2 separate regions of the Homo sapiens genome follow, and region 1 is linked to region 2. Evidence: fine-mapped expression QTL. Tissue or cell type: cerebellar hemisphere. Region 2 holds a variant in brackets; the other region holds the start of a gene. All regions are shown on one strand. Distances are from middle to middle.

The links. PIP is the estimated chance that this variant, and not a neighbour inherited with it, causes the effect.
Region 1: it holds the start of LRRC1, and the variant in region 2 is fine-mapped to the expression of LRRC1 in cerebellar hemisphere (GTEx, PIP 0.94).

What each region holds. Positions count from the first base shown.
Region 1 is chr6:53,791,733-53,799,826 of GRCh38, forward strand. It overlaps LRRC1 (leucine rich repeat containing 1), which reads left to right and starts at 3,273. Exons shown (of 14, transcript NM_018214.5): 1 at 3,273-3,683. The coding sequence starts at 3,525. LOC124901333 (a long non-coding RNA gene) reads right to left here and starts at 1,943. Exons shown (of 5, transcript XR_007059619.1): 1 at 1,809-1,943; 2 at 1,551-1,617. RefSeq lists silencers at 1,964-2,093, 3,139-3,378 and an enhancer at 3,345-4,057.
Region 2 is chr6:53,678,601-53,686,710 of GRCh38, forward strand. No RefSeq gene overlaps it. Among named protein-coding and RNA genes, the nearest start is that of KLHL31, 17 kb to the left of the region's middle. The variant T/C (reference allele first, on the strand shown) is at 4,321.

The DNA of each region.
Region 1 (8,094 bases), 110 kb after region 2:
TGAATCCCCATTTACAAGAATCCCTATCTTACACGCTAACACTTTGGATTTTCACTTAAAAAAATTAATGATATCATGCTCAAAAAATTAATGATAAAGCAACAACAGACCACTAAGTATTTATCATTCTCCTAACTTCAGAGAGTAAGCTTCATGAGGCTAAGACCTATCTTGTTTTTCTTACATTTCTAGTATCTAGCACAATGCCTGGTGCATAGTATGTACCTTTATTAGTTATTTGTTGCTGTGTAATAAATTACTCCAAATCTTAGCAGCTTAAAGCAACAAACATTTACTGTCTCACATAATTTCTGAGGGGCAAGAGTGGGGAGCAGCTTAGCTGAGTGGTCCTGAGTCTGAGGCTATCATGAGGTTTTAGTCAAGCTATCAGCTGGTGCTGCAGTCACTTGAAGGCTTGACAAGGGCTGGAGAACTGGCTTCCAAGATGGCTCACTCACATGACTACTGCCAAGAATCGTCAGTCCCTTGCTAGTTGTTGTCAGCAGTCTGCAATTCTTTGGCATGTGGAGCTCTAGATTTGCTCAACATGGCAGCTGGCTTCCCCAAAGTGAGTGATTCGAGAAAGAAAAAGTTGGTTACATAGACCAACCAGGAGATGGTGGATGTTGTCCCTAACTTCCTGGAGGCTGGCTAATAAAGTGCATAATTAATATTTATTGATTAAAGTAATGTGTGTCTGATACTGTACTAAGCATTTTACATATGTCATTTCATTTAATCCAGATAACAATCCCATGAATCATCCTCATTTGAGATATGATAAAACTGAGGCTTATACAAGTTAAGTAAACTGTCAATTTCTACGAAGCTAGTGGCATAACAAGAGTTCAAACACAGATCTCTTTAGCTCAAAGGCTGTGAAAACATGGTTCACAGTACAAATGAATAAAAGAATTACATTATTCTAAGAATAAAGTGATTTAGGTGGTCTTTTTAAACTTTGTTTAAATTGAGTCAAACTCATTTGTATGTGGCGGAAGAAACTAGATGTTTTATCAGGCGGGAAACCCTAAAATTCTTCAGGTGAGTAAAAAGTTAATTGCTTCCCTATTCTGTAGTTGACAAGGTGTTGTTTCATTTTTTCTCTCTTACTACGCTGTTTCAAATTCTTGGCAGATTATTGGAAACAAGGAAAGTCAAGAATTCTCCCAGTGACTACCCATAGAATTAAATCAACAAAAACTGTTGATCATTGACTGTGCATATGGCACTGTGGCAGCTTCCCAGATCTACAAAGCAAGTGAGACAGTATCTGTTGTTTAAGAGGTCATAATCTCTTTCGGATTAAGGTGATACAAAAATAATAACACAGAGAAGCTGAAGCATCATGGAGAGGCACACAAGGAATGCTTATTGAGGTCTGAATTTTTAAAAGACTGGACACGTCTTTAAAATACATTTGGTGTTCGTTAAAATAATCTAGTGTGATAACCTCTGGAAATCACATTATTTTAAATGGAGGGAACTAGCCTTCTTTAATTTTTTTTTTAAAAAGCAGTTGGAAAACTTGAAGACAGGGACTTACTTACCTTTCCACATGTCTCTGTCAGGAACCAGTTTTCTAGGAAGGGTGGCAGAAATGAGCTTCATATGTTTCTGGAATGCAAGAATGTAGAAAGGGGGGTGGAGGTTCAAAGTCCAGGTAGCCCTCTGTGAGAACGCAGGAATCAAATCAGGACAAACAAAAGAAGGGTGAAGTGGGTAGGGCAACGGAGTTTCGGGATTGACTGGAATGAGAGTTAAGGTGATAATGCTGGGGTGGAAATGAAAGTCAGACCCCTCCTTACGGACTGGGAAGAAAGGAGCCCTCCTAGTAAAGTTGAAAAGACCAAGTGTCCTCTTCTCCATTTCACCGGGGAAACGCTCCTGTGCCTAGTCGTAAGGTACAGGAGAGTCTATGGAGCCCATGGAGAGTCTAATGCAAAAACTAGTTTCCGACCAAACTTTGCCTTGGCCACTGAGCATGCTCAGCTTTGTCTTCTATAGAAAAGTGAACTCCGTGGCTCCAGATTTTAGCTATAGCAGCTGGAGGGCGGGAGTGAGTGTGGGAGAGCCAGCGTGGCAGCGGCCGCAGGTGGAAACCTGGAGTTTGAGTATGCTTGAAAGGGAAAGTGTGGAACGAAGGGGCGGCCGGGTGGGGAATCAGAGAAGCCCCCAAGGAAATGATTCATCATTGTGATTGACCTTGACTTTAGCAACCCTTCATTAAAGGAGAAAATTTGGTTATTCGGAGATGGGGACTGTGTTGCAAACAGTTACAGGCAAAGAGGGGCAGTTCAGGATTCCGGCCGTGGTCCGCAGGAATGAGTCGGGGCGAGGGAATGGTTGTTATAACCCAATAGTGAGCCTCCCCGGTCATCCGGGCTGGACGGGACTGGGGTTGTAGCAGAAAAGCAGGAGCTGTATGGAGGATGCTCACCTGGCAGCCTCGATCTGCCCCTCTTCCCTCGCTCCTCCCTCCGCACCAGCCACAGCTAGTTGTCAGGGGCCAACATCTGGGCCGGGCTGGAACTGGCTCAGAAACTCGCGTTTGCCTGCTTATTTCTGCAGCTGGGCTCCTTGCCAGGTGCAACCACATCTATGAGAATCTCGCAGACTCTCAGACTCCTATGCCTTTGCTGGTACAGGGAGGAGGATTTACTATCACTCACTGCATAAACCATGATCACCAGAGATGTGCTCCCAAGTTACAAAGCCTGCAGGCGGTGCCCGAGGACCAGAGGGCCGGGCGCGGCCAGCTCACACTTCTGGGGCAGCCGTGAGCAGCGGGCACACGGGCAGCCACGAAAGCAGCAGCGAGGGTGGTGCAAACACCTCAAAACTACACCGAATCCAGTAGCGCCTGGCGCCCCCGGCGCGCAAGGTACGCTTTGGGGCGGTCCTGTGTGACCCCGGAAGAGAAAGTTGTTTTGGGGAAGGGGAGCAAGGAGAGGAGTGCGAGTTAAATAAAACTAAATATCAAAGTTGTTCTGCTCTGCTCAGGCCGCCTCTACTCCGCCTCATCTTTGTCCCAAGTCCTTTCACAGTCTGCCTTCCTCAAACGGCCCGATGCGCCCCCGTCTTTGCCGGAGTAAGCAGACCGCCAGCAGCCGGCCCGCAGGTCAGTCGACCCTCTCTGGATGCAGGTCGCCGGGAAAACCCGGAGCGGAGCATCCCTCGGGCCGGGAAACGCCCTCGGCGCGCACCCACTGGCGCGCATGCTCAGTCCGCGCGGCGGCTGCGAGTAGGAAGCTCCGCGCGGCGGCGGGGGCGGCGACGGCGACTGGCGGGTGGGAGTGGAGGCACCGGCTGGCGGGCGGGGGTACAGGGACGGGGCAGGGGCTCCCGCTCCAGGTTCCTTGAAGCACTTCCGACCGCGAAGCCCGGCGCGAGAAGCGAGCTAACCCAAGAGCCAACAACGAGCGCGGAGAGGGCAGCGGACTGAGCGGAGCCGCCGGCCAGAGCGGGCTCGGAGCCCGGGTCTCCGCCGCTCGGGACCCGGCTAGGCGGCGGCGGGGGCGGCGATGTTCCACTGCATCCCCCTGTGGCGGTGCAACCGTCATGTGGAGAGCATCGACAAGCGCCACTGCTCGCTGGTCTACGTCCCCGAGGAGATCTACCGCTATGCCCGGAGCCTGGAGGAGCTGCTGCTGGACGCCAACCAGCTCCGCGAGCTGCCCGAGGTAAGGGTCCGGCCTCACCTGAGCGCTCTGCCCGCTCGTCTGCTGTCCCTTCCGCTCCCATCCTCTCTCGTCCCCTCTTCCATCTCCGGGTCCGGCGTGAAGGAACCTTCCCTCTTTTATGCATTCACCTGCTTCTTTCTCCCCCTGTCTCTTTACTTCCATCCTTTCCCAGTAAAAGTTCCTTTTCATTTTATTCAAAGTGACCGGATATTTTGCGCGTAGTCACTGGGGCTCGTGCTATTGGAGAAGCGTTCTGGACTGTTAAGTAACTTAGATCCATGCTAGGTACTGACACCTGGCACTTGTGCCCGGTCAGGTGAGAAGCCGGGTGATTCGGGCTGTTTCCATCTGGAAGCTACAGAGCACTGCATCCTCCCCCCCTCCACTCCCCGGGGTCGTTCCCCCACCAAGGGCCGGGCGCGCCTCTCCTTTAGTCAAGGCATGTCCCGGAGGACCTTGTGACCTGGGCAGCGCTCAAGCGGGCCGCACTATCTCGGCATCTTGGGAGGAATGAGGAATGTGCTCCGTGCTTTATCGCGGGTGGGCTTGGCCGGCTGGCCTGCGGTGGCTGCGGGGGTGGACGCGAGATGGGCGCAGGGGAGAGCTGGGCCTGGAGCGCTAGGGGCAGGTGCCCAGATGCCGGCCGCCCGGGCCTTGCCTACGTGGACCTGTTGCGTGGTGGGAGCTGCGGTGAACGTCAGCGGAGGCTCTGCCCGCGGGCCAGCCTTGCAGCCGCCTTTCCCGGAGCGGGCACAGTCGTCCTGCTGACTTTCTCTCCTTGCAGTGATGCGTTATCTCTTCAGAGTTGTTTATGTAAATTGATCACTCCATTGCCGCCGAACTTGTCAAGCGACATGTGCTGATGGTGCTTTGACCGAGAGTAGGGGTACAGCGAACTTCTTTCAAGCTTGCCTCGGGAACTTAGCTAGAGTAACCCCTCGGGGAAGGTGTCTCAAACCCAGGTGTGTGCAGGAAGTCGGTGTGCAATAATCCAAAGGTGTGCAGGAAGTAGGGAGACTGCTGGCAGTCGGGGATTGGACCTGTTTTAGGCCTGAGCTTTGGAACGCAAACTTCTTGTTGCCCTTTAGTTAACACAAGCCAAATCATTGTCACAGAAACACTAGTCAAGTGTTCTGACTTGTTAGAATGACCTGATACGTTCTCCAGCGCTGATGGAGCATTTAAACAATAAGAACTGTGTGTTTTTCTCAATATTTTAAGTGGTGGTGTTCTTCTTGGATTAACTTTCCTGGGTTCATGTGGAATTGATTGGATGTTTGCTCTGTGTAATCATGGAGATTATCCTCACTAGGACCTTTGCAAAGCCCCCCAGGCTTTATTTAGCTTAGAAGCAGCAAAGCCATCAAGTTCCCTCAGGCGTTTATTATTTCGCAGGCATTTTCAAACACATGATTTTTTTCTGGCCTTTTACGTCCTTGAAGATTTCTTACCAGTCGTCAGCTCCCTCACTGCTTTAAGTTGTGTAATTTTAGGCAGTGATATCACCAGGAATATAGAATATGTAATTTAATAGTTTTCAGGGGCTTCAGGATGACATTATTGAAGATGGAGTGAAAAGTTATTCACTAGAAATGATTCATTGCTCTTTGTGGTATTTGTTTTTTTGTTTTCTTTTGTAGAACTGGAAGATTTCCTTTGACTGGATTGGCTTTTCACTCCCTTCTGCAGGGTTTGTGGGTTTTCCTGTAATGTTGGGGAATTCAGCTTGGCATGGGAAATTACATAATTTCCCATGCCAAGCCGAAATGTCAGGTCTTTCTGTGATCCTAAATGGAAACTTGTCAGAATCTCAAAATATAGTCTGATGGCACTCTGTAAATATGGTAAATAAACAAGCTTTTCAAAGGTTACAGGTGATCTTGCTAATGGATTATTATTGCTCTAACAGCTGTTAAATTAGTATTAAAGTTTTTAGGTTGTGTAAAATCTACTTCTCCCTGACTTATTGTGTGTCTTGGTGCCTGGGTGTGTACATGCCAGACATGAGAACCACCTTGCAAACATAGATATCTGTTCCATCCCTTCCATTCTTTCCTTGGGCTATCTGTTGTCTCACCTCTGAGATCTGTATAACTTATTACCACTGGTCTCTGCTGCTCCTGCTCCAAACCCCTGTCTCCTTACCTGCCACACACAAGCGCATCTGTTTTGTTCACAAGCCTCAAAGGTCCTTATTTTGGTGGCCATACCAGCTGTATGTTCTCCTCTCTATAATTTGTTTGGAAGCACAGCTTAAGGGGAAGCCGGTACCCCTTACCAGGGCAGCAAAGATGCACTCTCCAGGTTTCAGTGTAATAACAGCCACCTTCTTTCCACTGAAAGGCCTGCAACTTCTGGTTTGCGCCAATATCTTCCTTTTACAAATTCAGATTCAGAATTGAGGTGACTTTCTCAGGGCTGTCCAGTGAGTTAGATGCAGTTGCTGGTGGGTCTTGTTCATTCAGATGTCAGCCAAATACAATTGCTTTGGACACCTAGCAGGAATCTTCTATCCTGCTTCTCACACCCATCAAATCTTTATTTAGTCTCTCCTGTTTTACTCATGTCATTATAACTTAGCCTTAGCCAAGCATTTATTGAGACTCCATTATTTACAAGTTATTGGGAATATAGAGATTAAAGGAGGCATGATTCACATCTTTGGGAGGAAGCAGATGATTTTAATCCAGATGTAGTTAGTGTGGGATGGAAAGGACACCACGGTTAAACTACTCCTAAGCTATGGACTTGATGGTTACTTCCCTAATCTTTTAACCTTTTGCATCAGATCCCTCATCTTCAGTTTGGTTGCAGTTGGGTGATAGCCTCACCATCCTTTTTGCATCCACCTACTTCTCCCCCATACCCGCAGTTTGATCCTTTTTGGCTCTGTGCTAACAAAGGCAGTCTCACTGTAACCTTCTTGAGATGTCTGTGTGTTTTTGCTTACCTTTGTTTATTTTTTATTTATTTATTTTTTGAGACGGAGTCTCACTCTTGTTGCCTAGGCTGGAGTGCAGTGGCACGATCTCCACTCACTGCAAGCTCCTCCTTCTGGGTTCACACCATTCTCCTGCCTCAGCCTCTCGAGTAGCTGGGACTACAGGTGCCCACCACCACACCCAGCTAATTTTTTAGTATTTTTAGTAGAGACAGGGTTTCACCATGTTAGCCAGGATGGTCTCGATCTCCTGACCTCATGACCCACCCGCCTTAGCCTCCCAAAGTGCTGGGATTACAGGCGTGAGCCACCATGCCCGGCCTTACCTTTGTTCAGCACAGAATCTCATCCTTGTGACACCCAATAGGTCTTGCTCAATAAACAGTTATTTATCTGTTGAATGAATGTTGCCGAATCTTATAAAAATCTTCCTCCCTCTGCTTCTTTCTTTTCCCTTAAGCATATCACTGCTCCAGCATCTATCCTTTTCTAATATAGTCAGAATATTCAAGTTGGAAGCAACTTCAGAAGAAAAGGTCATTCATAGGGTGACACTGTTTTGTCCTACTTGCCCTGCAGGAACCTTGGCTTCCCCTCTGTACTTCCTCAGCCTTTCACATGCCATTGGTTTTCTCCTCAGTGTGCACCAGTTCTCAGATACCTTCAAATGCGTGTGTTTTCCTGTAATCTCCAGCACCAATATAGCGCTTCATGTAGTAGTAGGCAGCACATATTTTAAATGAATATACTAAAGGCTTCATAGCTTTAAAAATTTGAATTTCACCTTGCCACCTCCTCTTAAGAGTTCAGTTGATTTTTGTTGATTGCCAGATGGCATTATCTCAAATGCCTGCCCCCTACATCATTCTTTCTCATATTCTGCTTTATTTTTTCCTGTCCTTTAGAGCATATATCATTACCTAACTCCAGACCATATATTTGCTTTCTTGTTCTTTGTCTCTCTCCCTAACTAAAACATAACCTCCATGAGTGCAGAGGTCTTCACGGCTGGACCTAGGACAGTATTTAGTACATAGTGGGCACAAAGATGTGTCAGTGAGTCCTAACATGGGTAGATGGGCCCTGTTTCTTAGCCGTCATAATTCCCCTTCCTATGGTCAGACTTTTGTACACCAATCTGGTGAAGCTATTGTTGACACAAAGTCTTCTTTCAGAATCCGGTGTCCTTGTCTTGCCAGTTTTTGTTTTCCATCTCTTCTGTGCTGGACACCTTTGATTGCCTTATCTTTGAAAGAATCTTCATGCATTGTAAACATATTTTCTATGAACATGACTTAAAGTTTAATATATCCAGCTGTGATCTGTTAAGGGAATATCCATCTCCACTTGTGGTAAGTCCCTTTTGCCTTAAACCAACCATGTTTTAATTTAGGTTTCATATTGCAAACTGACTGCTTTTCCCAGAAGTTCTGTTTCTAGGGGGCAGGGCAGCTATTCTTTCCATCTCAA
Region 2 (8,110 bases):
CTTTGGGAGGCCAAGGTGGGCGGATCACAAGGTCAGGAGTTTGAGACCAGCCTGACAAATATGGTGAAACCCCCGTCTCTACTAAAAATACAAAAATTAGCTGGGCATGGTGGCATGTGCCTGTAATCCCAGCTACTTAGGAGGCTGAAGTGGGAGAATCACTTGAACCCAGGAGGCAGAGGTTGCAGTGAGCCAAGATCACGCCACTGCACTCCAGCCTGGGCGACAGAGCGAGATTCCATTTCAAATAAATAAACAAATAAATAAATAAACAAACAAACATTAACCAGCTATTATGGCTCAGCTGCTAGGAACACACTATATAAATTACCATCTTTTCCCCTCAAATTGCTCACAAGTCAGTCGTGGAGACAAATGAATGATGACTTCTGAATCAGAAAAAGGTAAGTAGTATTTCAGTATAATGCAAACACAGAGAATTGGCCTGGGGAAACTGGGGCAGTTTCAGTACAGGGGACAGTGCTTCTGGCTGGGTCCAGAAGGAGTTGGAGGAATTTGCCAGGTGAATGATGGGGACTCTGACAGAGTATATTTCATCCTGGGAAGTGAATCTGCAATGCATTATTGGGAGTCTTCAAGTCATCAATGAGAATTTTAAGTTTGACTTTTACTTTCAGGATAATCTTTTTAAAGTTACTTTTAAGTTTATTCATTCAACTTATCACTGGACACTGCTGTACAATTTCAGGGTTCACATTTTCAAATGCATTTATTATCACAGGATACCAAGAAACACTTTAACTATCTTTTGCCACGCAGGAATTCAGGCCCAGAATGTGGAGAGAGATTCTAATTTCTAGATTATAATACAAGTTGGAAATTCAGCGTTTCATGTGAAATGTTCTAATTTTTAAATGTTGGCAACTAATTTTTTTTCAACATTGTCCATGGTAACAAAACAAAAACACAGGTCACATGTTTGCAGCTCCTGTTCTTTGGGTTTCAGGGTCATTAACAAGGTATTGTTTTCCACCCAGTGGCCATGTAGTTTTACTGCAGTTTGAAGGGCTTCAAGGAAATTTGCTTCCTGCAGTGCTGACCTTGAAACCCCCAACATGTAAAGCCCACCAAAAAGGACAAGGGCCTAACGAGGAATTCAGCAGGAGAGAAGAGGTGGTCTGGCCACTGGGTTGAGCTTGCACCACGGGGAAGCCGGTTCTGGAGCAGCCCAGGAATGAGGGGTAAAGCCCATCAGAACACAGTCGTGGCGCTCTGCTTCGGGATACGTGGCTGAGCTTGTGGAAGGGGAACCATCTCATAGCTCAAGCAAGGGTGTCAGTGAGCAGTGGTTGAACGCAGGATGTGTTCGACTGCAGTATCATATGGCTGCCACCACAGCAGTGATTGTCATGGAGACTGGAATTTTTGGTTTTCTCTACTGGGTTGTGAAAGTGATGCTTTTTTGAGTGAGAAAATCCTTTTGATTTGGCAAATTTGGAGGTCTGGATGAGGAGAGGGCTAAAGAGGGAGAAAATGGATTGTGGCAGAGGTTGCTAGTTGCTTCTCTTTAACATCTGTTTTCCTTCTTTTCCTTAGTATTAGCATTCTCCAGTTTTCAGCCGGGCACACAGCCACCTCCAGGTGACTGTATCACTAAATGCCTTTTAAAGGGCAGAAGAAAACTAATTTTTAAAAAGTTCAACAGCATCAATAATTTCACCTATTTATATTTTAAATCAGCAATCAGTGTGAAAACTCTAAAAAGGTCTAAAGGCATTACCTTGGTAGTTCCCAAAACTAGAGCAGCAGAGCAAGAGCCAAAACCTCCTCCGGTACGAAATTTGCAAAAATAATAGTTGACAGGTAAAATGTCACCCTTTTTAAAATTCTCTGAACAAAGAAGGCTATCATTTGTCTTACATCTAATCAAAAACATTTTGTAAAATTATGATACAGAGTCTCCTCTGTAGGGAGGGTACAGGTAGGCTTGTAGAATTAGAGAGACATGGATTCCAATGAGCAAATGAGATTACTTGACAAGAGAACAGACAGAATTAATAAGACTGGCTCTTGCCGCATCCTTGGTGGTTTAGGGACATGGTTCTGATAGAGTTCAAAGCTCTTGCATGAGGCAAATTGGTAAATATTCGGCCTGACACTTCTTGCACAATCATCTTAAATTATAAAGCAGTAAAAAAAAGCTAAGACTATTCCATTCTTGTGACTTTTTGATGTTTTCCAAATTGAGTTTTAACAGAAATAATAGCAAATGTGAACATTCAAAGTCAATCTCTATACCAATAGCACCCCTCAGCCCAGCTTCCTTCTCTGTCTATTTAGACTTGTTCTGATAGATATTTCAAGGGTGATCTCAATTGTACTCATGGAAAATAGCATTTCTGGGAAAGATTTCTACAAGGCTGAATTCTTCCTGTTGACTAATTCTCCTACATATAGTATTTCCATGTATAGCAGCAACTTCATCCACAGTTGCTCAGATAATTTTAAACGCCACTTAAAGGTTTAACAGGAACACTTTTGGTCCCATCTGTGGGGGTGGGAGGGCTAGGCTCTAAGAACAGAATTAAACTCATATTTTGAAGTGTAGTATGCAAATCAGGTTGCCAAAACAACTGCTTCTGTGACTCTTAGAAGAGATTTAAGATGGAGCCAAGAGTTGAGACAAAGGCTAAAGAGATCAGAGAATGAGAATCGAGGATTCCTAAGGTGAAAGTTTTTGAAGGATTGTGGCATTTTCCCATTCTTTTGGTGAGGGAAGAAGTGTGCTTCCCCTCTTCTTAATCCAAGTGAGAAAGACTTTGGGGGAGTCACATAAGGAACTTGATCTATGTCCTCTGGAATTCAGTGGACTAGTGTCTGAACTCTGAGGATGGCTGTTCAGGTTGTACAATGCACAACTCTAGAAGGTCCCATTCACATAGACAACAATGTTTAGAAATCTGCAAACTATATTTGGAGACTCTGGGTGTCTGACTCTCCTAGAGGTAAGCTATGGTGGTTGGAGCTGCAGTTAGTTAATTGCAAAGAGGAAAACAAGGGCACTAGGAGCAAGTTGGAGTTTCACCAACAATGAGACAAGGATGTGAGAGTTTTTCAGCTTGGCCACGTGGGTCCATGTAAGGAAACCAGCCTGAAGCCTTCTTGAGAAGGTCCTTAGGGGAAAAAAACCTAGAGAGGACCCCTCCAACTGAAAGCCAGAGGGCTGAGTGTTGGCAGTGAAAGTGGCCAGGCATTGGAGTGGCTGTCCTCATCATGGACAGTGCAGTGGGGATTTCCCATGGGGCAAAGAACCCCATGAGAGTCCACCCTGAGCACTCAACCTCAATGAGCAGCAACGCCAGATCACAGAGGTTCCGTCCATGTGCCCTTTGCATAACCCCAGCCCTGGGCCCAGTCCTGGAGGGAATAGAAAGACAGCTTGTGAGGGGAAGCATCGGAAGAGGAAAAGATGCCAACCATGCCCTAAGCCCCCAGCCCCAGACTCCCAAGACCCTCACTCTAGGCTTGTAGGCCAAAGTCAGGTGTCAGCCCAGGGAGGGTAAAAAATTTGGAATTTGGTTATTACACTAAATTGAACATTTTAATTACTAAAATAAGACTTCTGTTAAGACCAAAGGTGAGCTCAGGATATTTAAAACCTTTAAGTGACTGGGAGATCTGCTTGAGACTTCATATAAGAACAGGGAAAGAATCAGCCCATTCAGTAGGTATAAAGGAGGAGGGATTGGGGAGGAGTCGATATTGCTCTCTTTGTAGCCTGTTGAGCTCCAAACCTTCAGTAAGCAGGCCTGAAGCATTTTATTTTAACGTGAGATATATAAATGTACACTTATCCCCAATCTTTTGATGTAGAGCCAAGACCTTTTGTGCAAGCACAGGCAACTGATCTTTCTTAAACTCACCCACAAAACAGCAACTATGAGTTCCAATTTTGGCTTCCTCACATTGGATTGAAAATGTTAAGAAATTTGCAAAACAACCCAAATATAGTTTAAAATGTATACGATTCATTTTCTCTTGTCTTCTACAGTTGTCTCACCCACACCCGTTTTTTGAAATGAAAATGGGTGTGGGTGAGACAACTGTAAAAGGCCTTTTGAAAGCATTTAGTTTAGTGGTTCATAGAAACAACCACTCTTTTTATACTCATATGTCATTGGTTTACATAATATTTAATTAAATTATGTAACTCAGCAACAAGTACTATTGGCATAAACAGCAGAGCACATGCCCAGCTGACCCTTGGTAAAGGCACGCTTGAATTTGTGGGAGCAGAAGCACATGGCTGTACTGGAGAGTAGCCCGCTCATGGTGAGCTTTCCATGTGTCCTGATCATC[T/C]GTCTCCAGATCTTACTGAGAGACAGAGCATGCAGGATTATCTAGGGAGCTGGTAAATGGACAACAATCTACTGAGGCGCCATTATTTTAGGTCCAATATTTGAGATGTAAACACCATCATAAAAGCTACCATTGACTGAGTATCTACCATGTGCCAGGCAGGGCACTGGGCACTTTACACACACTTTAAATGAATAAAACCTCATTTAGCTTTCACAGATAATACTTTCCTTCATTTTACAGTTGAGGAAACTGAAATGTACAGAAATTAAATAACTTACTCTAGGTCACGTAGGCAATAAATGAATAATCAGTGCTTCTCAAACTCTAAAGTGCAAACAAATCACCAGGGGGGTATTATTTAAATGAAAACTTTGAAATAGTAGGTCTGGGGTGGGGCCTGAGATTTTGCACTTCTAAGAAGCGCCCAGATACTGTTGCTGCTGCTGGTCTGCAGACCAAATCTTGAAAATCCTGATATCCTAACTTAACTGCTCTGAGATGGAGCCCAGGCATCCCTGTTTTCTAAAAGCTCTCCAGGAATCTTTCGTAAACAGAGTGGAGATAATTGTTCCTCCAGGAAAGGCAGAAAAGTTGTGGAAGTGGATTGACTTAGTGATACTTGGTTTCAAATACCTTAATTTTTAAAAAAATGTGTTTTAAAAATACAGTAGTGCCCAGGCGCGGTGGCTCACGCCTATAATCCCAGCACTTTGGGAAGCTGAGGCAGGCAGATCACCATAGATCGGGAGATAGAGACCATCCTGGCCAACATGGCGAAACCCCATCTCTACTAAAAATACAAAAATTAGCCAGGTGTGGTGGCACGCGCCTGTAATTCTAGCTACTCAGGAGGCTGAGGGAGGAGAATTGCTTAAACCCAGGAGGCAGACGTTGCAGTGAGCTGAGATCACACCATTGCACTCCAGCCTGGGTGACAAGAACGAAACTCCGTATCAAACAAAACAAAACAAACAAACAAAAAATAGTAATGAATTTGAACCAATATACAAGTTTATAAAATAAAAGGTAAAAATCTTCCTCCTTTAACAAGAGTTTTTGAAAATAAAATATAATCAAGCTATTTACTGCACACACTTATGCAACAATTTTCTAACTCCATGATGTATCATACATTTCTTTTGTAGTAAGTATACACTACTATAATCTGCTTCATCTTACTTCATCCTTATTGATAATGCATTGTATTCCATAGCACAATGAAACCATAATTTATCTATTCCTTCATAGGTGGGCATTAAGCTGACTCTAATTTTTTTCAGTTTTACAGATAATGCTTTGTGCATATATCCATGGGCATGTGTATAAGTCATTCTGTAGAATCAACTTCTAGATGTGAAATTGCTGGTTTATTTAAAAAGCTATTCTCAAATACAAGGTTCACTGAATTACACTTGTGCCATCATATATAAAAATGCCTCCTTTCCTCCACCACCTTGAAATACTGGGTATTATCAATCTTTTGTGTATTAAGCAATACAATATATGAAAGGTGGTTCTCAATGATTCTTAATTTGTGTGTCATGAATGCATGAGGATGAAAATCTTTTAATATGTGCATTAGACTTAATATTTCTTCTTTTATGGCTTGTATGTCTATATCCTTTTGCCCTGTTAGTTATTTGGTTGCTTATCTATTTTATATTATTTGTCTCTTATATATGCTGCAAATGTCATCCTCCCAGCCTAATACTCGCTTTTTTTTTTTCTTTTGAGACAGGGTCTTGCTCTGTTGCCCAGGCTGGAGTGCAGTGGTACAATCACAGCACACTGCAGCCTTGACCTCCCAGGCTCAAGCGACCCTTCCACCTCAGCCTCTCAAGTAGCAGCTGGGATGGTGCATACCACCATGCCCAGCTAATTTTTAATCTTTTGTAAACACAGGGTCTCACCATGTTGCCTAGGCTAGCCTCAAACTCCTGGACTCAAGCCATCCTCCCACCTTGGCCCTCCAAAGTGCTGGGATTACAGGTGTGAGCCACTGCTCTGGGCCTACGGTTCACTTTTTAAATTTATTTTACAATATTTTACAGAATTGTTTCATTTCTTTATGTCAAGTCTGTCAATTTTCTTCCATGATTTATTTCTGTTTTACTTCTTATTTAGGAAAGACTTCCTCATCCTCAAATTATAAAATACATATCCCTGTTTTTTCCATCTGTCACTCATTAATTCATGTGATCATTAATCCTTATGCAAAATATATTCTGTATATAAAGTAGAATTATGACTTGAAGTTAGAGGGGTTTTTTTGTGTCTTTTACTCCCAAATACCATCCTCAGCACCATTCGTTGAACAGACCATCATTAATCCTGGATTTGAAATGCCCTCTTTATTAAACGATAGAAGTCTCATCATTAAATTTATTAAACGATAGAAATGTCATATGCACAAGTCTCATCTTCTCCTTTCATCCCTTTTCTTCCATGCCTGCCTCAAGTTGTTTTAATTTCTGTAGTTTTATAGAACTTCTGGAAAGACCAGTCTGTTATTATTTTTTAGTTTTTCTTCCTTTTTTAAAACCAAATTTTTTTTCTACTTTTCTTTAGATGAATTTCAAATGCCCATATCCGGTTCTAAAGCAAAGTTGCATTGGAATTTTTACTGAAATTTTATTCTAATGATCCACTAGTATGGGGAAAATTGACATCTTTATAGTATTGAATGTTCCATGCAGAAACAAGGTATGTCACTTCATTTATTCAGATAAAATATTTTATATAGTCTTCACAAATGTAGATTTGCACATAACAAGAGTTAGGTTTATTCCTGGATTAATATATATAAGGGAATAAATAATCTTTAAATACATTTATCTTTTTTTTTTTTTTTTTTTTTTGAGACAGAGTCTTGCTCTGTTGCCCAGGAGTCCAGTGGCGCGATCTCAGCTCACTGCAAGTTCCACCTCCCAGGTTCAAGCAATTCTCCTGCCTTAGCCTCCTGAGCAGCTGGGATTACAGGCACATGCCACCATGTATGGCTAATTTTTCTATCTTTAGTAGAGACGGGGTTTTGCCATGTTGGCCAGACTAGTCTCAAACTGTCAACCTCAGGTGATCCACCAGCTTCGGCCTGCCAAAGTGCTGGGATTACAGGCATGAGCCACTGCACCCGGCCTATATTTATCTTCATATATATATTTACATATATACACAAATACATATACACATATTTATATATATACATATATTTACATATGTACTATATATGTAAATATATATATCCTTTTCCAAATCATCATTCTAACTGATTATTGCTGATATATGATAGCTACTACTTTAAAAGTATTTTTCTTCCAATTAAGCGGCTTACCAGAGTCTCATAAGATCTAATCATTTTATGAATTATCTTTGGAGCTATAGAGCTTTTATTTGGCAAAATTCATTTATTAAAAATTCTACTTTCAACTATGAAGCTAATAAGCACTCAATAAAGAAAATTAGAAATCTAGAAAAAAATTACCCCAACAACTGATAACGACTAGTATCATTTTGCTTGCATCAGTTTTCATTCTTTTTATATTGCATAATTTCTTTTACATAATTGTAATCACACAGTATAACTAACTGGGTGTACTTTCTAAAAGAATAAATGCCTTCAATATGCAAAGCTCTTTTGCTGGGAGTTTGTTTTATAAGGAGCTGTGTGCTTCTCACTAATGTGCAGAAATGCTAATGTAAGTTCTGCTACTGAGAGTTACTGAGTTCAGTTTGGTCCCTTCTTTTGCTGCAGGCCTGGCTTGGTGACATTTCTACCACCCAATTATAG